2 linked regions of the Homo sapiens genome follow. The protein of the gene in region 2 purifies or fractionates together with the protein of the main gene of each other region. This does not show direct contact. Each region holds a gene or a part of one and is shown on either strand. Other genes may lie near its edges.

Region 1 (15,424 bases), on a different chromosome or scaffold from region 2:
AATTAATGAGCTATTGATTTTGAAGAGACCCACTTTATAAGTCTTTTTTGTTTATAAAAGATTTTCTGCTCCTTTGCTAAAACTGATAATTTGTCTTCTTACCTTCTGCATAATTAGGAACCACTATCTTGTGTGTGGAATGTGTACAACTGATGGTTCACAAGATGATTTTAAGTATTAAGTATATAAAGCTTTTCATTTTAATAATTATGTAATTATTTTTAATGTGTATAATGTATATTAGAAAATTGTAACTTGCAAATAAAATTCATGACACCTCACTAATAATCACGCTTAGGAAGAGGCAAGGTTTTTTTTAAGTTAACTCATTTTAAAAAATAGTGAAATACTAAGTATATTTCAGTAGAGAGGCTATTTAGATGTGGCAAAAATCTAAAGGATAAACTGAGATAATAATTTTAGAAACCACCGCCTTAAGAGTATCTCCTTAATAGATTTTTTTCTCTCATTCTCTCTAGCAAAATTCTTAACATTTGAAAACATGGTAAGAAGCTTAAGCTTCTCCCTAACCATCCACTATAATTACAACCTTCTAGCACAAGACACTGTTAACCATTGTTAACCACTGTCCCTAGTTTCATGTAACAAGCTATTCATCTTAAAGTATCAGAAGTATGACTTAAAATTCTGAAGACAGTCCTTCACAAAGATCTTTATTAGTATTTCTAGAATCATTTATCGTCCTTTTTTTTTTTTTTTTTTTTTTTAAGACAGATTCTCGCTCTGTCACCCAGGCTGGAGTACAGTGGCGCGATCTCGGCTCACTGCAAGCTCCGCCTCCCAGGTTCACGCCATTCTCCTGCCTCAGCCTCCTGAGTTGCTGGGACTACAGGTGCCCGCCACCAAGCCCGGCTAATTTTTTGTATTTTTAGTAGAGACAGGGTTTCACCATGTTAGCCAGGATGGTCTCAATCTCCTGACCTCGTGATCCACCCACCTTGGCCTCCCAAAGTGCTGGGATTACAGGCGTGAGCCACTGCGCCCGGCCTTGATCGTCCTTCTCTTTAAAGTCTATTATTTTGCATAATTAACATGCCAAAGCTTTTATCAGAATTGCACAACCTTAGCAATGGAAGAAAACTTCAGTGATTAATTAGTCCAGTGGGCTTCAAACAGTGTTCCATGGAGCTGAATTACCACAGATGTATAACAGGGGCCACTTTAGGAGCAAGTAGATAGCAGGACAGAGAAGAAGCTAGGTTCACTACCCACACCCACTTTAACAGGAGTAAGCCAGCTTTTGTTGGTTTTATATTAATATGACAAATTCACTTAAGGCTTAGTCCCCGAAACCAGAGGCTTGTTTCAACCACTTTTAAAAGTTTAAAAACTTATTTTACAGATAAGAAGCCAAATCCAAAGATAAAAAAACTGGCTAGGCATGGCGGTTCACACCTGCAATCCCAGCACTTTAGGAGGCTGAGGCAGGAGGATTGCTTAAGCCCAACAGTCGAGACCAGCCTGGGCAACACAGCAAGGCCCTGTCTCTACAAAACACATGAAAATTAGCCAGCATGGTGGTGGGTGTCTATGGTCCCAGCTACTGGGGAAGCTGAGGTGGCAGGACCACTTGAGCCCAGTAGGTCAAGGGTGCAGTGAGCTATGATGGCGCCACTGCACTCCAGCCTGAGCGACAAAGTGAGGCTCTGTCTCCAAAAAAATAACAAAAAAAAAAACAACTAATTTCCTAAACCACACAACTAGCAAATATAATTCATATGGTATTTAAATATGACACTCAATTTCCTTGCTCTAATCTCCGAATGCCCAGTATTCCATCTCAGCATTGTTCAGAACAGTCATCTAAACAGCTTGTTTTAAAAAGCAGATTCCCAGATTTCACCCACAGAGATTCTGATGATAGCAGATAGGAGGTGAGACACAGGGGCCTGCATTCTTAATGAGGAGCGCAAGTGAGTCTGACAGAGATGTAATCGTCACATCACACTTTTATAAGCACTGCACTACACCACAGCACCACTCCACTCCCAAATTCATCTAATTTTACACACAAAATATCCTCTACACTAAAAAAATACTGTGCTTTTCTTTTAATGGAATACTTTCCAACCAGAGACTGGATTTTCTTGCTCCTTGTGAACTCCCTGAAAAATCCCAAATAAGGCTTTTCTGTTCTGCTTTGCCAAACACACACAGTACAGTGTATATTATTTACAACTTCAAAATGGGCATTGGTTTTTCATTTAGACAACGTGTTGAGGGAGTCAAGAAGCACGTAACTGCTACTTCCTTCAAAATTTTCACTTAGAGAAGTGAAAATATGAAAGTCAAACAAAAAAAGACTGTGTAAATCAAAACCTCACTTACTTCTGGCTGCTGTCAAGGATGTCAACTATGAATCTATGCGGGAGAAACCTTCCAAAACCAATCATCCACTTAAGGAAAACGTTCTGTGCATTTAACATAGGTTCAAAATGTAAGTAAGTGCTATCAGCATTCTATGTGGACTTTTTTTTTTTGAGATGGAGTTTCACTCTTGTTGCCTAGGCTGGAGTGCAGTGGCCACGATAGGGTCTCACTATAACCTCCACCTCCTGGGTTCAAGTGATTCTCCTGCCTCAGCCTCCCGAGTAGCTGGGATTACAGGCACCTGCCACCATGCCTGACTAATTTTTTTGCATTTTTAATAGAGACGGGTTTCATCATGTTGGCCAGGATGGTCTCGAACTCCTGACCTCAGGTGATCCAGCCACCTCGGCCTCCCAAAGTGCTGGGATTACAGGCATAAGCCACCACACCCGGCCTATACAGACTTTAATTTGAACTATTTCAAGTTAAAATTTGGGTCGTGAGGATTCTTTTGCTGTTTCAAAATCAAATTTGGAGAGTAAATACATTCAAAATATTTTTTAATATACATTTTGTTTTATAGTTTCTGGTTCATTTATGGTTATGATCACTTATAAAAATGAATTAGAGTTCAAATATAAATTTCCTTTATAGTTTAGAGTCATCTAAGAAGTCTTAGTGTAACATAAAGCTATAGATTTCTAAGTAATTGAAAGCAGTATCACTGTTTACCAATAAAGACATACATTTATAACAAAATGGAGAAAAGAAAACCAAAGCTTGAACGAATAAAAGGTAAACATTTTCTTTTAATACACAGAAGAATTCACCATTCAAGAACTGATATTTGAAAGAGTCCATTTATGTATATAAACATACCTTTGGGAGTATACATGCCTTGTTGCATAGAACCTCCAGGTTCAAAAACAGGAGCCTTAAAATCAGCTACAGCTGATAAAACTGATTCAAAGCTGTAACTGCCTGGAATAATGCCACTTTTGGGATTAGGATTTTCTGGAATATGATATATATGTCAAGAAAAAAATATTAGTAACAAAAAGCCAGATTTATAGCCTTTCCAAGGTACTCTAGTTTCTCATTTTGCTGAAGTAGACAAATAGTAATTGGTTGTAATATACAAAGCTGGCCACAAGAGGGCTATATAATACAACAGATCAATAATAACTGTTTTTAATTGTGATTTTTGAAAATATGTTTAATCTAGGAGCCTACTAATAAATTGTATGCTGCAGTAGTTCCCAGGTATATTTTCCCCGAAATAAATTTATCAAATTTCAGAAAACGATAGAAAAACTTTTAAAAATGTGTCTTCATTTTTACCATTTTGTAAATAACTTTTCCTTAAAAAACAGAAAGAACTTGTGAAAAATTAGCCAAGATTTTTATGAGCAAAGATTGTTTTTCCAAAAACACAAAATTTCATCCCCAAAGAAAAAAATACTAAGCAAATATAAGCAAAGAGGCAAACCAAAAAGATTCTCTCCTCACATTAAAGCACATAAATCTTTAAAATTGAAAGACACAGAGATCGTTTTTACTCTATAATAGCACTGACACATAGTTCATAATGACTGAAGGAAATCATCAGACAGTATCAAATTGAGGCTGCTTACAAAAATCAAGGTTGTCAAACAGGCATTCTAATAGGACTTATTTCACAAAATAAAAAGTTTAGCCAATTCTTCCAAACATAGTCATAAGATATACAAATACTAAATTCGGCCAGAATTTTTATCACAAAATTACTTGATAATCTTTGTGTAAAATTTTATTAACATTAACTTAAAAAGATAATCAGATTCTCATTGTATGTTCAGTCCTATACAAAGAACCACAGGTTCCCTGTTTGTACACAAAAATCTATAAATTCAAAAATCCTTTAAGACCAAATTCTACAGAAAAACCCTCAAAATGTTTAAAATCCTGGTAATAATAATCGTAAGGTATACCTTTAACTGTTAACCATGAATTGCATCCTGGCTACACAGACAAAATGGACCTAGCTGCCTTTTATAAAACGTTCAGTAATGCTGTCCACTAGGAGGTTAAATGCTGGGGTGGCCAAAGCCATCATTCAGTCCTGAAATCTACCCTAAAGTCTAAGAAGAGTTCCCCAAGAGGTAATAACAGGAGGTTAAAAAAAAAAAAAAACAGTCACCAGGCTTGAATACATACTTGAGCACACAACTGGTGTTCTTCTTTTTCTATATTATTTTTCAACTTTGAAAAAAAATTAATCAAAAAATTGATAAACTATTAATCATAAAAAATACTTATTTTAGATCCTGCAACTAACAGAAAGTAAAATTTTAAAAGGATATGAGGTCCAGCAATGAACTGTGTGTCCTGTCATTCATACACAGCTGGGCTACCATCTCGGCCCTGAGAATCTCATCATCAGACATTCCTAAAATTATTAAAAACGGAATTAACAAATCTGAGTATACATAAATTATAAAGAAAAAAACTTACCACACTTTTTACTAAGCTGTTTTACCAAATATAAGATGCTTCAAATTAAAGAGTAAAGAAGCTATGCTCCAAACATAACTGCAGTTTAACTGCTGTTTGCAGTTCCCTTAAGCAAAGGATATTCTAAAAGGTATACCTACAGTACAACATATCAAGAGTTTGAAACATTGTTTACATTTATCTACATCCTTTCCTTTTTTCCCTAAGCCAGTTACTACCACAGGGAGGGGGAGAAAGGGAGGAAAACAGTTAATGCATAAGTATTAGTATCAGTGAGTTTTACCTAAATGTAAACGAAGACTCAAAAGAATCACAAGAAATGTAAGAGCGCCTTCTAACATCGACCTCTCATGCTCTGCATCAAGTACTGTATTTTGATGTTGTGATGCCATTGTCAACAAATCCACTACCTTAAATCTACAAGAAGAAATATTTGAAACATATTTTTATAAATTAAAACAAAATTAACTGGACACTTCCTAATACCTGTCTTAATAAAATTATGCCTACCTTTCAAAGACGGATGAAATAAAATAATCTGGGTCAAGTCTAGAAGCACAAACCTTTAAAAGAAAACAAAATGCTTTATTTCTCAATATTCAGTTTTCCTTCTTCTATTAATCATGTTTTTCTATACTTTTTTTTGTTTTTTGTTTTTTGTTTTTTGTTTTTGAGACAGAGTCTCACTCTCACCCAAGCTGGTGCAACCTCAGCTCACTGCAACCTCCACCTCTGCCTCCCAGGCTCAAGCAATTCTCATCCCCCAGTCTCCCGAGTAGCTGGGATTTACAGGTGTGTGCCACCACACCTGCCTAATTTTTGTATTTTTAGTAGAGACAGGGTTTCGACGTGTTGGCCAGGCTGGTCTCAAACTCCTGGCCTCAAGTGATCTGCCTGCCTTGGCCTCCCAGAGTGCTGGGATAACAGGCATGAGCCACCACGCCTGGCTATGATTTTTATTTTCTGTATATTATGATGTTTTGACATCTTGAGGGGCATTACAGACCTGAAGACAGATAGTCCCTCCCAGAGCCAGTTAATTCCTGAACATACTAAACAACTTACTTGGGAAAATGCCTGTCATGCAAGCCAACCACTGTCTTTATCTAACTCTCACACATCAACCCAGTATTTCCCCTCCCCTAAATCAACCCAGGGCCAGGTACCGCAGAGCCAGATACAGCCCCTATGCCTCAAAGCCTGCTGGAATTATTCAAATTAGCCAATCCTGCCTTGCCTTTCCTTGCCTTTCCTGCAGAAACCCCAATAAAGGCTCTGGCCTAGGCTCTCCCCTCACTCCTTTCTGCCTCTTGACCAAAATCTGGTGCTTTCCTTGTAGCCTTGTGTTGGGTGGTATGCCTCTTCTCCTGGGAAATGTAAGTAAAAAATTATTCTTTCAATGGCATTGGCCTCTCCATGTCATCACGCAGTCACCTCTATAAATTAAAATCCCTTGGGTACAAATGAGACACTTCTAAAGTATATCTGCATTATCTAGCTGGCTTACCTGTAACAGGTAAATGTCAGGATCAATCATGGAATTACAGAAATGAGACTGGACATACGTCATGGCTTGTCCTTTGATTTGCAGACCATTTCTTACCCACATATTGCTGTGGATTTCTGCAAGACTTGCCTAATAAAAGTAAATTGGACAAAGAATAAATTATCTAAATGCAATCTTTACAAAATATTATAAATAACCATTTCAAAATATTTAATGATGTGATCATAGTATAAGCCCGATATTCTGTCCAATGTTAAAGATAATCAGTTGAAATATACATTTTTACATTTTTTTTAACAATAATTATGTTTTTACATAGCCACTTTTTTAGAGTTTAAACAAATGAGTTGGTTTTCCATGTTGGCCTCTGGATACATTTATGATGATTTTCACTGACATCTTTCATAAGAAATCAATGCTTATGTTTCACTCTATTTCTCCCTCAAGAAAACCCTAAGTAACAACAACAACAATCCTAATATACATGTTTAAAGAAAGACACTAGAATAAGCATAAAATAAAACCAACTGTTCAAAGTCAATGAATACATTCTACATCTTTAATTCACCCTAACTCAATCTTAAATCTATACTGCTAATTTTCCAAATATTGGAGGTTAGAATAAATGTTCTCACTACATCAGTATTTAATTCTTCATGTATTTATGTCCAGTGTCAACTAAAACTAGGCAGTCATCATTTTTTTTGTTTTTTTTGAAACAGAATCTCACTCTGTCGCCAGACTGGAGTGCAGTGGCGCGATCTTGGCCCACTGCAACCTCTGTCTCCCAGGTTCAAGCAATTCTTCTTGCCTCAGCCTCCCGAGTAGCTGGGACTACAGGTGCACGCCACCATGCCCAGCTAATTTTTGTATATTCAGTAGAGACAAGGTTTCACCATGTTGGCCAGGATGGTCTCGATTTCTTGACCTCGTGATCTGCCCGCCTTGGCCTCCCAAAGTGCTGGAATTACAGGCGTGAGCCACCACACCTGGCTTCAAGCAGTCATAATTTTATGTTTCCTAACACCCAGAGTTCAAGTTCAATATTATAATAATTAACAAATCTAAAATTGCCAGGAAAAACAAATGGAAGTGCAAGTCCCTCTAATGTATATAAAAAGCTGGCCTGTCAAATTACATTGCTGGTATTAAAAGAAATCACAGTGCTTATATAAGCTAATTCTTCTCTCCTCTTTCTCCTCTCACTATACAGATAGGGAAACTGAGAATCAAGGAGGTGAATTACCTTAAACCTTGCGGAAAATAAAACAGTGGTAGCACCAAGGCTAGAATCTTTTGGATCTCCTGACTCCCAAAACAGTGCTATATAGTATGTTAAATACCACCCCATAAGCAAATATCATGAAAAGAATTCCTGGAAAAAGTAAAACTAAAAAGTAAATCTCATAAAATGAAAAATACCTAAACATAATCTAGCAAAAATACAATAACAACTTTTTAAAAAAAGTTTTCAAACATCTCAGCTATAATAACAATGAAAGGCATATAAATAAAGGAAGAATCACTTAAACAAGGAATCCACTTCAAAACTTTTTAAATGCCTGAATACATACTTGAATTTGGAGTGGGTGAATCATTAGTTTCATTAACATTTCCTGATCTGGTAAAACAGAATCCAAATCTAGTTCTTGACATTTCACAGCCTAAAAATTACAATAAAAAAGTTACTAATTCAATTCTTATTTCTGAAAATTAAAAAAAAAAGAACAGAATTGTTTAATGACAGTCTTACCTTACTCAAAAACATAGCATAGTAACGATGTAGTGGCAGATGAAAAGTGACTTGGTTAGGTGCTGGCTGGAATAAACAAACAAAATGCACAAGTCAAAGACTATTTTATAGAAATTTTAAGATGGTTGTAAAATGTTTAAACCATACTCTCACCTGGATTTATTCCTATACTTTTAGTTCAAAACTTAACATTTTAGAAGATGCAGATTCCAAAATCACTATAGATAAAATTTTTCCATTTTAAACACTTAAGTATAAGTTTCTTGAAGGCAGAAATTGTATTCTACTCAACTTTGAATCCTCTGAAGCATCCAGTACAGATTAATATTTCCTAAATTCAATTCAGCTAAAGCAAATAATTATTATTAAAACAAGGGATGGAATGGATTTCCAGCTACAGTAGACCATTTGGGACTCTTCAAACGCATGTATACCAAACATCATGACAGTAATAACAGTCACATATAACATTCATTGAACACTTCCTATGTGCCAGTCACCATGCTAAGCACTTTATTCACATTACCACATTTAATCCTCAGAAGAATGCTATGGGGTAGGAGCTACTAATATTCTCATTCTACAAGTAGCAAAATTCAAACTTAGAAAACTTAACTAACTTCCTAAAGTTCAAAAGTAGTGAACTGGGGAGCTAATCTGGACTCCACTGTCATATTCAAAACTGTAAGAAGACTCTGACCACATCCCTAAACAGAGGTATAAATGCAGGGCATCGTTAGATTCCTTCACCAGTTAGATAAGATGCTTCCAAACAGTACCAAACGCACCAGCCTCCATAACAAAACTTCATAAAAAATATGTGAATGACCTTAGGCATTCCTGTAAATATTACAAAAACTGTATTTTAAATCTGTGAATCCCATGGATCACAAAATCACTACAGGGCAAAAATACACCACAGCTGTCCTTCTTAAACAAATGAGTTAAGAACTGAAAAGGTATTGTTTGTTTTTAATGCTTTTTAAGTTCTTATTAAATATTCTCTTGTTAAAAATGTTTATCCCGGACATTCAGATAATTATGCTAATGTATATAATTTACATTATAGAGGTTATAAGGAGTCTAAATATGTCACCATCCCTGAAATAATTATTTTTTTCAAAACCAGTAAGATAATAATATCCTCTTCAATATGTAAAGGCTATAAAAATTTGTTCTAATAAATAAAAGTTTGCCCTCCATAAAAAGAAAGGAAAGTCTAACAATGTTCTGTAACATGAATAAACCTTCGGGATATTATGCTAAGTAAAATAAGCCAGTCACAAAAAGACAGTAACTATATGATTCCACCTATATGAGGTTCTTAGAGCAGCCAAATTCGTAGAGATACAAAGTAGAATGGTGGTTGCCAGAAGCTGGGGGAAGAGGAAATGGGGAGTAGCTATTTAATGAGTATAGTTTCAATTTTATGAGATAAAAAAGTTATGGAGATTGGCTGCACGACAATACAAATACACATAACACTACTGAACTATACACTTAAAAATGATTAAGATAGTGAATTTTATGTTTTCTGTGTATTTTACCACAATTAAAAATAAAATTTTAAAAAGTTTGCCCTCCATTACCATAATCGCCTTAGTAACATATTCTACACTAACTAGCTAAGTCAGAATCTCCCTCAATTTCCTTTGAGGCACTAAGCACAGTGGATAAGTGCAGACTCTTTTTTTTTTTTTTTTTTTAAATAGACAGGGTCTCACTCTGTGGCCCAGGGTGGAGTATGGTGGCACGATCACAGTTCGCTGCAACCTCCACCTCCCGGGCTCAAGTCATCCTCCCTCCTCGGCCCCCTGAGCAGCTGGGACTACAGACACACACCACCATGCCTGGCTAATTTCTGTTTTTGGTAGAGACAGGGTTTTTGCCATGTTGCCCAGACTGCTCTCGAACTCCTGGGCTCATGCAATCTGCCCGCCTCAGCCTCCCAAAGGATTGGAATTATAGACGTGAACCACCAGGCCCAGCCTAGGTGCAGACCCTTTTTTTGAGTCTCGCACTGTCCCCCAGACTGGAGTACGGTGGCGCGATCTCAGCTCACTGCAACCTCTGCCTCCCGGGTTCAAGCAATTCTCCTGCCTCAGCCTCCTGAGTAGCTGGGACTACAGGCATGTATTACCACACCGGCTAATTTTTGTATTTTTAGTAGAGACAGGGTTTCACCATGTTGCCCAGGCTGGTCTCAAACACCTGACCTCAAGTGATCCACCTGCCTCGGCCTCCCAAAGTGCTGGGACCAAAGGCGTGAACCACTGTGCCTGCTTCCTAAGTGCAGAATCCTGGTTCTACCACCCAGCTGTAAAACTATGGGCAAGTTACCTCTCTGTGCCTAAGTTGTCTGATCCTTAAAGTAGGAATAATAAAGAGTTTAGTAGCTGCGAGAAATAAGTAAAACAGCACAGTACCCAGTACATATTGCTATTAACTAGTAAGCCATGGACCCTATTTTATCTTTCAGGGCTTTAGCATATCCTATGTTCACATTCTCCATAACGTTAAAGTCCATATTCCTTCCTTGTCTAATGTCACAGACTGGCTACTTGATAAGCACTTCTTCTATTCCTATATATACTGAGAGTCCTTGGATTCCATTCTTCACTCTATAGTCTTCTATGTGAATTTATCCAGATTCACAGCTTCAGCTGCTAACTCTACCCAGATGAGTTCCAAATCTCAGTGGAAATCTCACTCCTGAACTCCAAATCTTACATTCAGGTGTCTACTGAACAGCAATACTTAATATTCCATAGGACCACAAATACAGCGTGTCCAAACCAAACTCAGTATCTTTGCCATAAAACTCAATCCTCCTCAATATTTCTTCTCCAGATTCCCAGTAATTTAAATATGAAATGTAGACTTCCTCCTTCTCACAAGCCTCCTATATTTGATGAGGTATCAAATTATGTTTACTTATTTTTTAAGTATCTCTTAAATCCACTTTCTTCTTTCTGTCTACACTGCACCTAACTAACCTTAGCTCAGGCCCTCAACACCTAGTGCCTAGATTTTAGTGATAACCCCTACTTCTACCATTATCCTGCATAAAACACCTTTTGTGGTGTCTGCCTAGCTCACAACCTTCCCATCTTCTCAGAATGTGTCTCCCTCTCCCACTCTCTGCCACCTCAACCACACACAGAGATTGGGGCCTGACAGTCAAGTTTATAGTAGCCATACTTGACTGGAGGCAGGGCAGGGGACATCTACCCCCGCTTGAGCAATGACTTTCTCTCTTAAAAAATTTGAACTAGGATTCAGAGACATTCACAGACAATCTGGGAGTATGCCTGAAATGGTAACGTTAGGCAACTATAAAAAGGCAGTATTTCACCACATAGGCAAAGCACAGGAAGGGAAGAAAAAATGAGGCACATACACTCAGGGCAAAGCAAAGGCAGGCGACAGGAGTTCCTATTCAGATTTCCAGTCCATCCCTGAGGTCCAGGTGCCCTAACCCTGAGACATCCCTATGTATTCATAATAAATTACTGCTTTTACTTTATTATTATACTTTAAGTTTTAGGGTACATGTGCACAATGTGCAGGTTTGTTACATATGTATACATGTGCCATGTTGGTGTGCTGCACCCATTAACTCTTCATTTAACATTAGGTATATCTCCTAATGCTGTCCCTCTCCCCTCCCTCCACCCCACAACAGGCCCTGGTGTGTGACGTTCCCCTTCCTGTGTCCGTGTGTTCTCATTGTTCAATTCCCACCTATGAGTGAGAACATGCGGTGTTTGGTTTTTTGTCCTTGCAATAGTTTGCTGAGAATGATGGTTTCTAGCTTCATCCATGTCCCTACAAAGGACATGAACTCATCATTTTTTATGGCTGGAATATACACATATTCCATGGCGTATATCTGCCACGTTTTCTTAATCCACTCTATCATTGTTGGACATTTGGGTTGGTTCCAAGTCTTTGCTATTGTGAATAGTGCCGCTATAAACATACGTGTGCATGTGTCTTTATAGAGGCATGATTTATAACCCTTTGGGTATATACCCAGTCATGGGATGGCTGGGTCAAATGGTATTTCTAGTTCTAGATCCCTGAGGAATCGCCACACTGACTTCCACAATGGTTGAACTAGTTTACAGTCCCACCAACAGTGTAAAAGTGTTCCTATTTCTCCACATCCTCTCCAGCACCTGTTGTTTCCTGACTTTTTAATGACTGCCATTCTAACTGGTGTGAGATGGTATCTAATTGTGGTTTTGATTTGCATTTCTCTGATGGCCAGTGATGATGAGCATTTTTTCATGTGTCTTTTGGCTGCATAAATGTCTTCTTTTGAGAAGTGTCTGTTCATATCCTTTGCCCACTTTTTGATGGGGTTGTTTGCTTTTTTCTTGTAAGTTTGTTTAAGTTCATTGTAGATTCTGGATGAACCTTTGTCAGATGAGTAGACTGCAAAAATTTTCTCCCATTCTGTAGGTTGCCTGTTCACTCTGATCGTAGTTTCTTCTGCTGTCCAGAAGCTCTTTAGTTTAATTAGATCCCATTTGTCAATTTTGGCTTTTGTTGCCATTGCTTTTGGTGTTTTAGACATGAAATTACTGCTTCTTTAACTCAGGCTGCTTTAAATTATTTTTTCCCCTTGCATTAAAAGAACCTTGACTAACATATCTCCTATTACCCTCTATATGCTGCCAGAAGGTAGTCTTACTTAAACATTAATTTAACCTTGAACTTCTTCCACTCACAATCTTTTAATGACTCCCTATGGTTTTAGCCTCCTGATAACCTTCCAATTCCTAAGAAGAAAGAGCTTACCTCTCCAGCCTCATCTTCTGTCACATAAATTCATGCACCATAGGTAGTATCCCTAACTTACTAAGCTTCTGTGCCTTTGTATACACTATTCCCCCTGCCGCAAATGCTATATATCCCTTCTCCCACTGGATTACTGTATCTTTAAGACTTTGCTCAGTTGACACTTCTACTAAGAAGCTTTTCTTGGGTTCTTCAGGCTAAATCAGGTGCTCCCTTTTATGGTCCCACATAGCACCTGGTCACAACTTTACAGAAGCACAGGAATCAAATTAACCATATACTTGTTTTCCACTTCCTTAAGTCAGGGACTGTTTTATCACTGTATCCCCTATGTTTACAACATAGTAAACATTCAATAAATATTTGCTGGATGAATGCACGTTCTACTTTCCTCTTACCAGAGGACTCTAGCCAAACCCACCCTGCTACAAACTCACAATTGTTGCCCTACATGATATTCATGTTTTTAAGAACTCTTAAATGGCCTATCTTATAGGAAAATGTATTCCATCTCCTGTTTCTATATGATTGTTTGATCTGGCTTACTTCAGTTCAAAACATATTATTGGCCAGGCACAATGGCTCACACCTGTAATCTCAACACTTTGGGAGGCCCAGGCAGGAGAATCACCTGAGCCCAAGTGTTCAAGACCAGCCTGGGCAAGATGGCGAGACCCTGTCTTAAAAAAAAAAAAAAAAATTATTTGCTTGATTTGTACTAGATTACCATAATAACTTCTGACATCCACCCACAAGGATGGAAGAAGAACTAATGTTTATCACACATGTAATATGTGCCTCTTAGTCAATCCTCACTGGTTAATATTATCACCTTCAATAGATGAGGAAATAGGCTCAGCAGTGTTAAAAAAAAAAAAAAAGTAAAAATATATTAACAATTAAACTTAAAAAAATCTGTCCAAGGCCACATAGCTAGTTGAATTATGGCAGAGCCACAATTTACACTCAGATCTGCCTACGTTAAAGCTCTTTCCACTGCCAACAACCAATACAGTTAAAACATTACCAGACAAGGAGTTCCAAAATGAGGACTGTGGACCCAGAAGTACCATAACTTGCTACATAACAATAGGCAAGTCATTTAATATCTCTGCATCTCCACTTCCCAATGACAAAAAAAGGAGGAATAATAAAACCTTTAAGCACCATATAAAAACATGACATGGACCCAGCACAGTGGCTCGTGCCTGTCATCCCAGAACTTTGGGAGGCCGAGGTGGGTGGATCACCTGAGGTCAAAAGTTCGAGACCAGCCTGGCTGACATGGTGAAACCCCATCTCTACTAAAAATACAAAAATTAGCTGGGTGTGGTGGCACACGCCTGTAGTCCCAGTTACTCAGGAGACTGAGGCAGGAGAATCGCTTGAACCCAGGAGGTGGAGGTTGCAGTGAGCCAAGATTGTGTCATTGCACCCCAGCCTGGGCAACAAGAGCAAAAACTCCATCTCGAAAAAAATAATAAATAAATAAATAACATATTATTTGATTCTTTAAGTTCTATACTTAATTTCTCTTCTTTTAAGAATCCATTTAAATTTTTGATAACATTCAATATCTTCCTAAAAATATTTCTGTGTGAAAAACAGATACACTATTTCCTAGAGTTCAGCTGCTCTGTATGTCATACATGATTCTAACTGTCCTTCACTACACTCATGATTCCAAGCATGATTAATTTAAATATCATTTTCTTGTGTATAATTTTCTCCCAGTTCAATCTTACTGTTGTCTTACTGATGCTACTATTTCAACAATAATTCCTGAAGTTTCAAATACCAAAGAAAACTGGATTGAGAAAAGCTTCAGTTAAAGCTCCAGCTGAGGGACTGACCCTGGACAGGGTGAAGAAGGAGGGAAGCAGGTTGGAAGTGGGATGGTGCTCCGTGAAGGCTGGACAATGTTCTCTCTGAAGACTGACTCATTACCATTTGCATAAACAAAATTTAAGCCTAAAGACCAACAATTAGACAAGGCAAAGAATCAAGGTGAGTTGGTCAGGGCAGAATCAAAATCCAAATGTACAAAATCTAGGTTGAAGGCTAAGAGCTGACACAAATGTTGGGGGAGGGGTAATGAGGGGTAAAGAAAAATTAATTCAGGGCAGGAGGGATTAGAATTAAAGATAACAAAGGGTTCTTCCCTTCCTAAACCATTCCTAAAGCCACTGGGAGGTAAAGAGAGGGAGCAGGGTAAAAATAAGCATCTAAAGGTTAGGAAACTGAGAGGGAAGTCAGAGCTCAGACTGAGGAGGGCAACTGCTGGGGTAATTGAGGGGTTGAGATGTTGGGGGTTGCTCAGGCATAGGGGGTGTGGCCTAGCATAGGGCATCAGATGTGGACAGAGTCAGAGGGGACCCACACAGCAGGGCAGACCAGTGTAGAGCATCAGAGCCAATCTGGGTGAGGAGGGCCTCCAAATGGGGACTGACCTGGCATGGGGAATCAAAGCCTGACTGAGGTAAGGAGGGCAACAATACAGGGGGCCAGCCTGGAATAGGGAATCAAAATCCAAG
Region 2 (15,244 bases):
CCCAGGAGACCACAGGCCCTGGACTCCCAAATCCCAGCAGCAATGCAAAGCCACCCCCAGAAGAGCTGCCCAGGACAAGTGATCCTGCGGCCCATTGCTCACTCCCCGCAGAGGCAGGGGCAGCTGACTGCTGTCCCAGATGGACATAGAAGGTCACCATGTGGCCTGCTGGGGTCTGCAGGATAGAAGGCGTGAGGTGAAGAGTTTGAGCTGGTGCCTACACCTCCGTCTTCCAGCCACTGAAAACAGGATTCTCCAGAGTTCACACCTATGCATCTGGTTCAATGCTGGGCATTTTGTCAGGCCACAAGCCAGCAGCCATGCAGCGGATGCACCTGTAGATGATGCACTGCCTTACTGTCCAGACAGAACAAAAGGGATCCCCTTTCCAACCCGAAACTGTCGGATTCTCTAAGAGGTCCGTCACAACCCATCTTAATGCAAGAGGGACTGTGGCTCTTCTGGAAACACGATGCCTCGGTGCCATGAAATGACAGCTGCTTCTTTTGAAGAACTGGGCTATTCCCATGTAAAGCTGGCTGCAATGGATGATGTTTCTGACTCATACTCTGGCTTTAAAATCAAAGTGTTTGTTAGAAAGCAGCTTTGTTTTCCTTCTATTTCCTGTTTGAAAAGTGAAGCGTTAACACGAAGGAGGGTCCCAGCGGAGTTCATGCCGGGACTCAGGTTGCACACGGCCAGTGGTCCCGGGATATCCAGGGAGCCACTCAGAGGGGACACTTCCAGCTGCCATGCAAACTCATCATGCACCCAGCCCCCCCTTGCTCCAGCTCTGACCATAGTGCCCTCAACACAGGGCCCTGGGCAGCTACCCTCAAACACCTGGATGCCAAGCATGAGAGGGAACCAACTTGCCCTCCCTGGTCTATTATCACAAAGAACCTTGGAGCCCCTGCACAGGAACCCACTCCTTAGAGGGCACAAGGGGCCAAGTTTTGTTTGAGACAATGAGCTGGCATTGGAAGGGAGAGATGACAGCTATCCTCTGTCCTGCTTCCAGGGCAGGGCAGAGCAAGCTGCTTTTGGCCCCGTCTCTGAGGCAGACATGAGCACACTTGTCTCAGGCAGAAGCAGCCTTAGATGGTGTTATGGTTTGAACGTGTTTCCCCCGCAAAATCCAGGTGTTGCCAATGTGCTAGCATTAAGAGGTGGGGCCTTAAGAGGGGATTAGGCCATGAATGGAATCAGGTGTCCTGATGTAGGTGCTGTGTGGAGGGAGTACATTCACTCGTTGCCCTTCCACCTTCAGCCATGTGAGGACGGCAGCCTTTGTCCCTTCTGGAGGACGCAGCAGCAAGGCACCATCATGAAAGCAGAGACTGGAGCCATCACCAGGCACAGAACCTGCTGGCACCTGGCTCCAGAGCTGTGGGAAGATACATTTCTGTCCTTTGTGAATCGCCCACTCTCCGGGGTTGTGTGAGAGCAGCACAAAATGGACTGGGACAGCTGGAATGTCAGTTTGCAACAGTCCCCACCCACACACTCAAGGCATGCCACGGCGGCCACGCTGGGTGCCTTTCCGCAGGTGCCCAGGCATCAGGAGCACTGGCCCAGTCTCGAGGGGCGTTCATGTCAGGGAGGTGCCCCCGCTAGTGTCAGCTTCAGCGCCGCCAGCATCAGGAAGTTCATCTCGACAAGCCCGGGCAAGAGAGGAGGCGGTGAGATCACCTCCTACCCATCCAGAGATCCCCCGACTTTGGAGTAGTCTGAAGGACTTGAGACTCCTGAAGTGAGAGGGGACAGAGCTAGGAGAAGGGAGGGCAGCCAGAAGGGCAGGGGTGCAGGGGGCGGGATGAGGAGAGCCAGGCTGGCATTAGCAAGAGCTTCTTCATGTCCTTTTGGCCCAAGGGGGCCGTGTTCTCTGAGGAAATGGGACTTGCTCCAGGGAAGAGGAAGAGCTCAGCATCCACTTTCCCTCTGCCGAACAGCTCCTGGGGAAAGCCCACCACTGTCTTCTTGCCCCGCTCTGTGCCCTCACACAAGCGATTCTCTCCACCTGCGACGTGTTTCCTCTCCCTCCCCTGGCCAGTGTCCATGGGTTCTCTGAGACGGAACAGGAAGTATTTTAAGGAAGACCTCCCTAACCTCCTCCCAGCTGGGTGGATCCCTCCCTCTGGGCCCCCACACATCTCAGTTTCAAAAGACCATTCACATTGTAGTCTAAATTAGTGGATCCCTGGTGTGTGATGTGTGCAGTTATAATGGGTTGCCTCAGCCCCCAACGCACCTTTCATTGCCTTCTTCTGTGATAATGCCCCTGGGCCCTGTACCCATTTCTCCCTTGCCAGCTGGCATGATGTTTAGCCCTGTGCAGAGGCAGGGGCCTCTCCCCGGTTCCGACATTTCTTTCTCTGCTTGCCCCGGCTGCTGGGGGGACATGAGGGACACTTGGCCCTGTTCTCTCTTCAGCAATAATTAGTCCCAGCCCAGGTTCCTGGCCTGCTGCTCCCTGAGGAGGGTTTGCCAGTGCCAGCCCGTGCTTCCTTGTACCAGGACTTGGTCTGCTGGGACCCAGTGGAAAGCCCACGGCTGCCGCCCCCACCCACCTTCCCCTGCTTGCCAGCCACAGTCACCAGCTGTAGACTTGTGTGGCTGTGCTGCGGAAGCAGATCTGGGTGGAGGAGGGCCCCACGCACAGACGTGAATATGAAGGGACCCTCTAGAGGTTGTGGCAAACACAGGTGCCCCGCCCCATGCCCTGTCTGCAGTCACAGCCCTTCCTACATGGAGGGTGCTATCATCAATCTTCTGGGGGGCTGTGGACACTCTGCATCCCCATACCTGTGGCAGTCCTGGCACACGGTAAGCTCTCAGTAAGTGTGGTGAGTCACTGCTGAAGGAACTAACAAATAAACCTCCCACCACCAACCACAGGTAGCTGGGGCAGAACTAGGGAACTGCTGAAAGGAGGCTGGTGAACCCTGCCATGACATGCCCGCTGTGCCCAGGACCCAGGCTCCCACAGCTCGCGTCCTTCCTCTATCCCAGATCCATTCAAAGTGAAGTGGCCTCCATACAGGCTTCCCTAGGGGCCCTGCTCAGTGTCCATGAGGCCACCATGCCGCCGTTCACCAGGGGACGTGAGAAAGGGGCTGGCCTGTGGACCAGGACTGACCCAGGTCTGAGCCCCAGCTCAGCGGTCGGCTAGCTGTGCGAGCTTGCGCAGTAGCTCCCCAAGTGTGGCTCAGGACGCACAGCATCGGCGTCAGCATCGCCCAGGAACCTGTTAGAGATACACATTTTTGGCCCCAACCTGCATCGACCAAGTCAGAAATTCTGCAGTGTGTGTTTTCGTAAGTCCTCCAGGTGACTCTGATGTACTCTCAGGGTTCAGAACCATTGAGAGAGAGCAGTTTAGCTGACCTCCTCCAGGCCTCACCTGCGCATGGTCACGACTGTACTTTCCGCACACAGTCGCCGAGATGCGTGTGAAACCCCAAGCACAAAGCAGAGTGAATCGCAGTGGCCAGAGCATACCTGAAGCACCAGCGCTGGTCCCCTCCCTCCCCCTCTCCTCACCTGCCTCCTAGGAGTCGGAGGGTCCGTGGAAATGGTCTCCTCCTGCACATCTGTGCTGCTGTGACTGGGTGCAGGTCTGAGCAGAGGCTTTCGGAGTGAGCTGAGCAGGCGAGCCCGAGCACGGCCTCTCAGGGAGCGAGCCCATAGGCTGGGGAGCCGTCCCTGGAGATGCCCCTGGGCTCCTTGCGGGGCATGGCTGAGTTCCTGCCTGTCCTTGGCAGGCCCGCAGTGGTGGGGTGGCTCAGGCAGTTACCCTTTTCACAACCAGTGCTGCTGGGGGTGAAGGCAACGGGTGGGTGAGCACGGACAGTGTGAGCCACGTGGCCGGGAGCTGGGCCAGCTCGCTGTATGTGCACATCGTTTCCATGTGTGCAGCAGAAATTGGCGTCTCTGCACAAAGCTGATTTTAGTCTTTCTCACCTTTTCTTGCTCAGCTTAAAATAGGCCTCTCTTCAGGGACAAGGTGGCCTTATACCAAGCCAAAGTGCTGAGGGCGCAGGGAGACCCGCGAGACAGGGCCCCCTGAAGTCCTGGCGGTTTCTAGCCAGCCTCTTGAAATTGACTTGAAGGTGTTTACCTTGCAGATTATTTTTTCCAACTTCCCACACTCTGCTTCCCGCACTCTGTCCTTCCTCAAGGCTGGCACGCTCATCAGTTGACTTCATCTCTCCCTAATGGCAAGGCCTGACCCAGAAAGAAATGCAACTCAGATCCCGGCTCAAATGAGGCTGGGAAAGCTGATGCCTGTAAGACCGACAAAGACGGTGCAAGGTGAGGTGAACGCCGCTGTGTCTGGGTGCCGGGCTCCCTTGTCGAGTTGACCCTGAGTCTGCATCAGCTCAAACGCAGTTCCCGGTTCCCCACTGAGATTCCCACTCCCGCCTGGAGGGGAGACGTGCCTGCCTTTTGAATGAAGCGTTGCACACTAGACATAGTATCACAGGCAGAATTGTCATTTTTAGCCTTTTTACATGTTGCCAACTTTCAGACATACTATTCCGTTTTATCCCTCCAAATTCCTCAAAAGCTGCTTCTATTTTGGAGCTCTTTCTTGCCAGTGCTGGGTAATTTCTCCCTAGCCATGTTTTTATTGTAGAGAATGGAAACCTGATGTGATGAACACTCTGAGTAGAAATCCCTGGGGGCTCGCAGTTAACCGGATAAGACATCTCACCCTGAGAAACGGTCCCAATTTCCTTTTAAAAATTCATTGTCTCTCTGAGATACATACATATTTCCTTGTCTCATTCCAGAATCAAAAGTTCTAATGTTGCAAAGAATAATTTTTGTCCAAATATGTTTTCTTCCTGGTGTTCCAGAGAGTCTGGGATAGCAAGAGGTGTGGAGCTTTGGTCCTCGGGTGACTCTGATTCCATCGTTCCTCCAGCAACCAGGGAGCAATCACTGCTGGGCAGGGAACACCTGCTTCCTCCCTGGGCTTCCAGCCTTCCCCTAGCAATCTTTTTTTTTTTTTTTTTTTTGAGACAGAGTCTCACTCTGTCACCCCGGCTGGAGTGCAGTGGTGCCATCTCAGCACACCGCAACCTCCAGCACACTGCAACCTCCACCTCCTGGGTTCAAACAATTCTCCTGCCTCAGCCTCCGGAGTAGCTGGGATTATAGGCACCCACCACTACACCCAGCTAACTTTTGTATTTTTTAGTAGAGATGGGGTTTTACCATGTTGGCCAGGCTGGTCTCGAACTCCTGACCTCAAGTGATCTGCCCACCTCAGCATCCCAAAGAGCTGGGATTACAGGCATGAGCTACCGCACCTGGCCCCCAACACTCCTTTTTAAGACCCATTTGAAAATAATGACAAAAACCACAATTACTTTTGCACCAAGTTTAACCACAGTTTACCAGTGTGCGGTTACTGTGGCTTGAACATTGTTATCCATGCATGGTACTTCTCTTAAAATTTGCTCCCATGCAATCAGAACACTTCTATACAGCCTGTCTCCTTAGATAGACTTGACCATCCTTCTCTGCTCTTGCATCTACTGCTTGGGGCGAGGGCAGGGTCTGGCCCCTGGGGATAGGCCAGACAGGCTCACCAATTGGACAAATGGATTCAGGTCAGCTTTGTAGACTTGGCCTATTCCCATCTCTTGACACAGCGGGAAAGTCTTGCTTCCTGCCAATTATCCTCTGCTAAGCCATATTCAGCATTTCAGTTTTTATAAGAGAACCATGAATTCAAGGGTATTGGGCTTAGTCTGAGCTACTAACAATGGGTTACTTTTCTTACTTTTGCCTATTAGAGCTTGGGGACAGAGCTCCTCCAATTAGACCCTCAAAGCAACAATGAGTGAACAGCAGGCCAAGATCCAGGCATTCCCAGGCCTGGCCTAATGTCACCCTAGTCCTTGACCCTGCCTGCTGGACTTTAGGACATGAAGGGGTTAGACATGGATGAGGTTAGAGAGGTGTTTGCATGCCAGAAGACGGTGAGTGTCCGGGCCACATCGAGGCGCTGGAACATCCTGCAGTGCTGTGCGTCTTAGAACATGCCCACAGCCCACCTGCCCCAGAGCAGTCTGAGTGTTAAATGTGTTGGTTCTTGAACCGCATTCCGGGTCTGCTGGATCAGAATCTTTGTGGGTGGGGCCCAGGAACTTCCATTCTAGGAGATTCTTGTGCCTACGTCACTGATCAGGATGTTAACTGAAGAATCTAAGCCAAGGGATGGTGTCATCAGATTGGCCACTTTGGTCATGTTTTGTGGGACGGATTTTAAAAACTGGAGGCCAGACAAGCGATTGCTGTAGTGCTGCAGGTGACAGACCTTGATGAGCTGAGCTCAATCATCAGGCGGGGTACAGCGAGACAAGGAGGCCAGGGCAAGTCTCTGGCTTGAGTGACCAAGTAAATAGAGGATAATTAGGGGATTCAGAAACAGGGGCTGAGTTGAGGGGCCTGTGGGATCTCCAGATGGGAGCAGTCCAGCAGGAAGTAGGATCCATGGACCTGGAGCTTAGGAGAAAGTTCCAAGCAAAAGATCCAAATAGGTGGGAAAGGAAATCTTTAAAGTAGATGCAATTTCTCAGGAAGAATGTGAGAGCAAAGAAAAGGCACTGAGGCCAAAGCTTCAAGAACACCAACATTAAAGGGCTAGGCAGAAGGGAAGTTGCCCAGTGCATGGGGGCTTATATGGGAAAGCATGTTTTCATGTGTCTGCTTCAGATAAATTTATATTTCAATAGGACAGAATGTTTTGATGGATAGTAATCAGTCCCTGGAGCCCCATTCAAGTATTGTCCCAGGGCCGGGCACGGTGGCTCACACCTGTAATCCCAGCACTTTGGGAGGCCAAGGTAGGTGGATCACTTGAGGTCAGGAGTTCAAGATCAGCCTGGCCAACCTGGCGAAACTGTGTGTCTACTAAAAATACAAAAAAAAAAATAGCCAGGCATGGTGGTGCACACCTTTATTCCCAGTTACTCAGAAGGCTGAGTCCGGAGAATCACTTGAACCCAGGAGGTGAAGGTTGCAGTGAGCCGAGATTGTACCACTGCACTCCAGCCTGGGCGACAGAGCAATAATCCATCTAAAAAAAAAGTATTATCCCAGGCTATTTAATAAATTTGCTCAGTAATCACAATGAGATGTAGTCAATAACCAGAGTTAAATGTTCCTGTTAGGGGTAGAGGGAGAGAGGACTGAGTTGGGTGGGAGAACAGCTCTACAATCAGTGAGAGTTGACATGATGTGGACATAGCTGTATCCTCTTCATTGAGCCTCCAGTCCCTGCACACTGAGAAAGTGAAAATGCTTTCAGTAAAATTGCCTCCAGAAAGAAATGTCACCAGCTGACCTTTTCAGATGTGAGTATAAGACACATCAAAAAGATATTCTGGAAGGACAAAGAGGAGGGTGCTTTCTACACCTCCCATTTGAGTAGGGGCAGGGAGGGTATGTGCTTTAAATGTCTCTTGGCTGGGAATAAAATGGATTTTCCTCTTTCCCACTTTATGTGGATGTTGTTGGTAATAATTCACAAAGTATACTTCTGTTTATGCTTCAATTCCCCCTGGTAAATGTTTAACCATAATTGCACCTTAAGAACAGCGGTCCTCAACCTTTTTGGCAGCAGGGACCGGTTTCATGGAAGACAATTTTTCCATGGACTGAGGAGGGGGATGGTTTCAGGATGACTCAAGTGCATTACATTTATTGTGTACTTTATTTCTATTATTGTTACATTCTAATATATCATGAAATAATTACACAACTCACTAATGTAGAATCAGTGGGAGCCCTGAGCTTGTTTTTCTGCAACTAGACAGTTCCATCTGGGGGTGATGGGAGACAGTGACAGATCATCAGGCATTAGATTCTCATAAAAAGCATGCAGCCTAGATCCCTCGCATGTGGAGTTCACGATAGAATTCATGCGCGCTCTTATGAGAATCGAATGCCGCCCCTGATCTGACAGGAGGTGGTGCTCAGGCAGTAAGGTGAGCGACGGGGAGTGGCTGTAAATACAGATGAAGCTTCACTGGCTCACCCACCACTCACTTCCTGCAGCCCAGTTCCTAACAGCCCACAGACCCATACCGGTCTGTGGCCCAGGGGTTGGGGATGCCTGCCTAAGAAGAATAAGAATTTATATGGAGTGCTCCGCCATGTGCCAGACCTTATTCTCAATGCATAATGTACACGAACCCAGCTGTTCTGCAAAACATGTCACGGGATAGGTGTTTTTATCCTTACTTTACAGAACAGCAAACAGAGGGCTAGTGAGGTCAAATGACTTAACCAAGCTCACCACACTAGTAAGTAGCCAGCCCTGGATTCACACCCAGCCAGTCTGGCTCCTGGGCCTACTCTCTTGCCTGTTATTTTATACCACATTTATAGGTCCTAGTGGTTATTAATAAATACAACTCTTTGGATTGTACATGTACATTAAAATTTCTCAGAGGAAGCCAAAGGTAGTCAACAACTCCAATAATGCACTGACTGTAGCATTTATGATAAATAAGCAATCAGTGAAGCAGAATAATTCATAAGTGTTCTTTCTTGCTATTAGAAGACTTGGATGCTATAAAATATGTACATTTCACTACACCATCTTATGCATATTTATCACCTTAGATGGTTTCACGTGTCTGCTTTTAGCTAGATTATACATTCTCTGAGGTTAAGAAGTGCACACTCCCAATATTTGGAGCCCTGGCACAGAAAGCCAGAGAAAGCCCAGTGATGCATTTTCATGGCTGAGTCACGTTATGCAGGGGAGCTCAGGAGAGCAGCTTTCAGTTCACAAAAATATTTTTAGCTATTTTCCAAGTTGGGAAATCTAAATCTAAAATATGTTTTGGGGCATTTATTTCTCTTTTAGAAGATATTTAACTACATTTTTATAACTTGAAGAGAAATGTATCCACATAGACACAATTCCAGTTGAAAGAACCCTATAGAATCCATAGTATTAAGAGCCTTTTAAAAATGTATAAAGAAAACAACAAGTTTTTTTTCCTGAGCCGATCTCTGAACCAAAGGGCTGTAACTGAAGTTTGACCATGACCCAAAGTTTCTTCAGAATCTCTTCGCAGCACACTGAATACCCCCACCCCCATCAAGGGTATTCTCAGCTGCAACGCCTGCCTCCTGGACAACGACCTGGTATTAAGTGTTAAAGAATAAATGCTAGTGGTCAGAGCCCTTTTGCTGAAAGTCCCAAGAGAACTTCTGCTCCTGATCGTGCAGAATTCAGCAATTTAGAACAACCTTCCATCTGAGAAGAAATTAAAGAGGTAGATAAGGTCTTCTAAAAATTGCTCTTGAAGGCATTATTAGCTCATTAGTGTGGTAACAAGATAATGATGAATTAGTAGGGAAAGATCTAGGAGTGAGACCAGAGGCCCAGGGAGAAGAGCCAGCAGCCAGGACCACTTTTCCACCCGAGGCCTGTGTGGATTCTAGAGGAGCTGGATGAAAGGCGGGTGGTTGCCTGCGGGGCTGAGTGCACCTGCCTTGGAGTGCAGAGGCCCCTGGTGTAGGGTGAGCCTGTGTGTGGCTGGTGGCCTGATGAACCCTCTTCCTTTTGGGTTGAGATCATGGAAAAGCTGCACCCTAGGAGCAAACTGAACAGAAGAAGACTCCTTTCAAGGCAACTGCAGTTCAGCCTTAAGCTATCTCAATCTCTGAAATTGGAGGAGGGTAACTCCAAGAGTTATCCTGTACCTCTGAAATTGGAAGAGGGTATTTCCAAGGATAGCTTGGAGTCATCCTATGCGTAACTCCCAGTGTTATGCATCCTGAGATGCATGGCAGAAGCAAGCTGAAATCCTCTCTGGAGGAAGGTGATATTACCCTAGCCCTCAAATTGCTTTAATAAACAATGTTTCAAAAATAATGTTCAGCACACAATGAGGAATAACAGGCACACAATAAGAAAAGGAAATGAGCTAAGAGAAAACAGGCAATACAAACAGGCTTACAAGGACTCAAAAAATAGGAGCTATTGGACATGGACTTTAAAACATCTATGTGGCTGGGTGCGGTGGCTCACGCCTGTAATCTCAGCACTTTGGGAGGCCAAGGCAGGCGGATCATCTGAGTTCAGGAGTTCCAGACCAGCCTGGCCAACATGGAGAAACCCCATCTCTACTAAAAATGCAAAAAAAGTAGCTGGCCGTGGTGGCAGGCACCTGTAATCCCAGCTACTCGGGAAGCTGAGACAGGAGAATCGCTTGAACCTGAGAGGCAGAGGTTACAGAGAGCCGAGACCATGCCATTGCACTCCAGTGTGGGCAACAAGAACAAAACTCTGTCTCAAAAAAACAAAAATAAAAATAAACATCCACGTATACATGTTTAAGATGACAAAAGACAGTATTGAGAATTTTGGCAGAGAACTGGAACTATATATGTAAAAAAAGAATATTTCAGAACTGAAAAACTGATTATACTTTTAAAACTCAATGGATGTGGCCGGGTGCAGTGGCTCACGCCTGTAATCCCAGCACTTTGGGAAGCTGAGGTGGGTGGATCACGAGGTCAAGAGATCGAGACCATCCTGGCCAACACGGTGAAACCCCGTCTCTACTAAAGATACAAAAGTTAGCTGGGCGTGGTGGCACACGCCCAGCTACTCAGGAGGCTGAGGCAGGAGAATCGCTTGAACCCAGGAGGCGGAGGTTACAGTGAGCAGAGATTGTGCCATTGCACTCCCGCCTGGCAACAAAGCAAGACTCCGTCTAAAATGAATCAATAAATCAATAAATCTAAAAATAGTTATAGAACTTATAGAGTGATGAAAAACACCCAGAATGAAGCATGGAGAGACAAAATACAGGAGACAGAATGTTAAATTAAATTAAATTTGGGCTGAGGCTGACTCCTTTCTTAAGTCCCTACATAAAAAAATTGCAACCTAACTTAGTATGTAAACAAACTTGCAACTAACTTAGGAGTATTTCATAACAAACAGCTGGGTGTCAGCCAATAACAGCAGCCAACCTTCAGCCAGTCACAGGCAGCCAAGTGATCAGGCCGCGTTCAAATAAAGCAAGTGCCAAGCCATCAGCAATCAAACTGTTACTGTAACTCACTTGGGATTTTCTGTCTATAAAGATTCCCTGCTGACATTGCAGAGTGAGCTCCCTGAACCTCCTCACGTTCTGAGGGCTGCCCAATTCACAACTAAGCAAATCATTCTTTGCTCAGTTAAACTCTGTGAAATATATCAAAAGTTCTTCCTTTTAACAAGAGTAAGAGATAGAGAGGATATAGTAAGAGAATCCAACATACCTATACTTGGAATTCCAGGAAAGGAGAATGAAAATGAAGCAGAGACAAAATCTAAAGAGAATGGCTGAGAACTTTACAAAAATGCTGAAAAATATTAAGCCACGTATTTAAGAAGTTCTACAACTCTAAGCCAAAAACATTTAAAATATATATATATTTAAATTCATACATATATGTATCACCTCCATATCTATACACATTATAGTAAAAATGCTAAATAACAAAAAACAGAGACAAAGAGAAAATCTTAAATGCAGCTTGAGGGAGTAAAAAAACAAACAAAAAACAATTACCTTCCAAAGAGTAACAATTAGACTTAAATCTGACTTCTCAACAGAAACAACAGAAGTTAGAAGACAATAGAAAGAAAATAAGAGCCAGCCTGTACCTGATGAAAATGACCTTCAAGAATGAATTCAAAATAGAAACACTTTTGGCCAGGCACAGTGGTTCGCACCTGTAATCCCAGCACTTTGGGAAGCCGAGGGAGGCAGATCACCTGAGGTCAGGAATTCAAGACCAGCCTCACCAACATGGTGAAACCCCATCTCTACTAAACATACAAAGGTTGGCCGGACATGGTGGTGCACATCTGTAGTACTAGCTAGGTTGAGGCAGGAGAATCGCTTGAACCCAGGTGGAGGAAGTTGCAGTGAGCCGAGATTGTGCCACTGCACTCCAGCCTGGGCCACAGAGTGAGACCCTGTCTCCAAGAAATAAAATAAAATAAAATAAAATAAAAATAAAATAGAAACATTTTCAAATAAACAGAAACTAAAAGAATTCATTAATAGCAGACCCATACTAAAGGACATTCTAAAAGATGTTATCCATGCAGAAGGAAATGATCCGAAGTGGAAGTTCAAAGATAGACCAGCTATAAAGGAAAAATTGGATAAATCTAAATATTTTAAAGTTAAGACTTTATTCCTTGAAAGACATCACTAAGAGAGTGAAAAGATCAGCCACAGACTGGGAGAAGATACTTACACAACACATGAAATGAACAAAAGATGCCTATCTTTCCTTACATATTCTTAGGCAAAGCACTCCTTGAAATTAAGAGACAAGACAAGCACTGAAAAAATGAGTAACAGGCAACTCACTGAACTTATAGACTGATGAAAAATACCCAGAAGAAAACATGGAAAGATAAAACAATGTAAAATACAGAAGAGAGTATGTTAAATTAAATTAGCGAAGGAAATGGAAAGGGCAATGCAAAGGGTTTTCTGGGTGCGAGAATGTTTCTGTTGATCTGGATGATGGCCACATGCGTACTCACTTTGGAATAAGCCTTACTTGGCACTTTCTCAACATATTATATTCTACAATACAAAAGTTTTTATAAAAAAGAGTGAAACTGGAAAAAAAAGGATAAATACTGGGTTGTGGGAGGGGTTAGAAAGATGAGCTGTTGGAAAAACACACAAAGAACTTCAATTGTTTTAGCTAATGTGCTTGTTTTAAATTGAGTCATAACTTCGTAGTATTCAGTTACTTATGCTTTATAGTTTAACAACTATGCAAATTGCTTCTAGTTATTTGGTTTTTTAATTTAAAAATTAATTTTAAAAAGACAAAATGTTAGAAATACATATAGTCATTTATATCCACCCATAAGTGATTCAAGATGAAAAAGCCGGCAAACTCTGTTCCCTAATCCAAACCCTTAAGAAGCACAGGGAAATCGGATGATGTTCTGCTGAGGCCTCAATCAGGTGGATCAATCTCCACCCAAACTCATAGAAACAGACCAAGAGACAGAATGCATGTGGATTCTAAAGGTTTCTTGTTATTTTTCTGCAGAGCCTGAGGCCTGAGGTAAACCCTGAAAAAATTACTGGAGAAAGAAGTACGTTCAGGATTAGAATCTGAACCCCCAAATTCTTCTCCAAGGGAATGCCCTTTGGGCTGTTGAGAAGGCAGTGGAACTCTGCAGACAGACACAGCAGACACGGTGGACCTAGCCATGAAATCTGCTGAAGTCCAGGGAGTTCTTGCTCTTCTCCCTAGCTGAGGTCTCAAGCACCTTTTCCTGGCTGCTTTGACCCTCCCTCCCTCCTTAGCTGTAATACTTGTGGGTCCCTAACCTGCAAATGTATTAGTTTTTCATAGCTGCTGTAACAAACCTAGTGGTTTTAAAAACACATGTTTATTGTTTTGCGATTCTAAACTTCGTAAGTATAACATGAGTCTCACTGGGCTAAAATCAGGTTGTCTGCTGGCTGTGTTCCTTTCTGTACTGTCTAGGGGAGAATTTATTTTCTTGCCTTTCCCACTTTCTAGAGGCAGCCCACATTCCTGGGCTCATGGCAGTCTTTCCACATCTTCAAAGCCAGCAACAGCAAGTGGAGTCCTTCAACACTTTGACCTGGATCCCAGTTCACATCTCCTTCTCTGTCTTTTTCTGCCTCCCTCTTCCACTTTTAGGAACCCTTGTGATTACATTGGGCCCATGAATAATCTTCCTATTTTAAAATGAACTGATTTGCAGCCTTGATTCCTCTCTCTGCCACATAACCTATTCATAGGTTCTGAGCATTAGAACATAGACATCTTTGGGGGCCATTATTCTCCCTACCACGGCGCTTCACTAGCTAACCAGGCTTGCCTGCTCAACACACCTTCCAGTCAGCTGTGTGTGTGTGTGCGTGTGTGTGTGTGCTTGTGTGTGCATGAGCATGTGTGCGTGCTTGTGTGTGAGGTGTGTGTGCATCTGTGCATGCATGTGCGTGTGTGGTGCATGCATGGGTGCGACAGTGTGTGTGGGTGCGCGTGCAGGTGTACGTGTGCATCTGTGCATGCATGTGCGTGTGTGGTGCATGCGTGGGTGCGAGTGTATGTGTGTGCATGTGCGTGTGTGCATGCGTGTGCATGTGTGTGCATGTGTGTGCGTGTGTGTGTGTGCGCGTGTGCATGCACATGGGCATATAATTCAAATTTGAATTGGTAGCCACTGATTGTCAGACATGAGGAAAGTTTCTGACATACGGAAGAGGAACAAAAACAGATGCAAAGGAAATTAAGGGGAAAAAATGCAGGGTACAAAATAATAGTAATAATTCCCTCTCATATCTCAGAGAGGAAGGTGCTGCCTGGATCCATCAAACAAAACAAGAATATAGAAAAGAGCATCCCAAGATCAAGAACGAATTCTTGGAAATTAAAAATATAGAAGATGTAAACAAATTCCACATCAGGGTTGTTTCATAAATGAGTAAATATCCCAGAAAGTAAAACAAAATGTCAGACATGGACAAAAGGAAAGAAAGGATAAGAGAAATTGAGGATCAATATAGGTTCAGTGGCCCACGAGGTTCCAGCATCCAATTAAGCTGATGTTCAGAAGGCTGAGAAGAAAATACCAAGGAAAGAATTCTGTAAATCCCCAAACTGGAGACCGATTGAAGGGGCCACTGCCCAGCACTATTAGTGCAAAAAGACCCACGCAAAGAAACATCATCATTAAAACACAGAAACACCAGGAAAAAAGAGATTTAAGAGTTTCCAAAGGGAAAATAGTTCACATGTGAGGATCAAGAAACAGAATGGCATCAGACTTCTCCACAGCTAGATTTGCTGCAGAAGACAAAAAGGAGTATCATCAAAATTATGCGGGAAAATGATTTTCAGACTAGGATTCTGTATTAAGCCAAACCATCAAAGAATATAAGACCAGCGGGGTAAAAAGGTATGTTCAGACATGAAAGGTTACAAAAATTACTTCCCTTGCACCTTTTCCCACTATAAAGAGAGAATGGCATAAGACAGAGGAAAATGGGATCCAGGAAACCAGGGATTCCTCTCCAGAGAGGAAAAGGGAACCCCACAGTTATACCAGCTGTGACTCAGGCCCAGAGAAGAGCTACTCTAGATTTGGCAGGAGGGTGAAGCATCAGCAAGCACTCCAGGAGAGAGCTCTCTTACCTGCCTCTAA

Evidence for each region.
Region 1: the proteins of TP53AIP1 (region 2) and UBR3 purify together in Homo sapiens (affinity purification with mass spectrometry; 2 studies listed by BioGRID and IntAct, with this or other methods). This does not show direct contact.

What each region holds. Positions count from the first base shown.
Region 1 is NC_000002.12:169,916,655-169,932,078, reverse strand, and holds part of UBR3 (E3 ubiquitin-protein ligase UBR3), read right to left. Parts: intron 8,151-15,424; coding exon 8,085-8,150; intron 7,996-8,084; coding exon 7,906-7,995; intron 6,461-7,905; coding exon 6,332-6,460; intron 5,388-6,331; coding exon 5,335-5,387; intron 5,242-5,334; coding exon 5,108-5,241; intron 4,760-5,107; coding exon 4,674-4,759; intron 3,353-4,673; coding exon 3,211-3,352; intron 1-3,210. UniProt on the Homo sapiens protein: E3 ubiquitin-protein ligase which is a component of the N-end rule pathway. Does not bind to proteins bearing specific N-terminal residues that are destabilizing according to the N-end rule, leading to their ubiquitination and subsequent degradation.
Region 2 is NC_000011.10:128,939,251-128,954,494, forward strand, and holds the start of TP53AIP1 (p53-regulated apoptosis-inducing protein 1), read right to left. Parts: upstream 3,622-15,244; 5' UTR 3,594-3,621; coding exon of another isoform or gene 3,544-3,593; intron 3,248-3,543; exon of another isoform or gene 1-3,247. UniProt on the Homo sapiens protein: May play an important role in mediating p53/TP53-dependent apoptosis.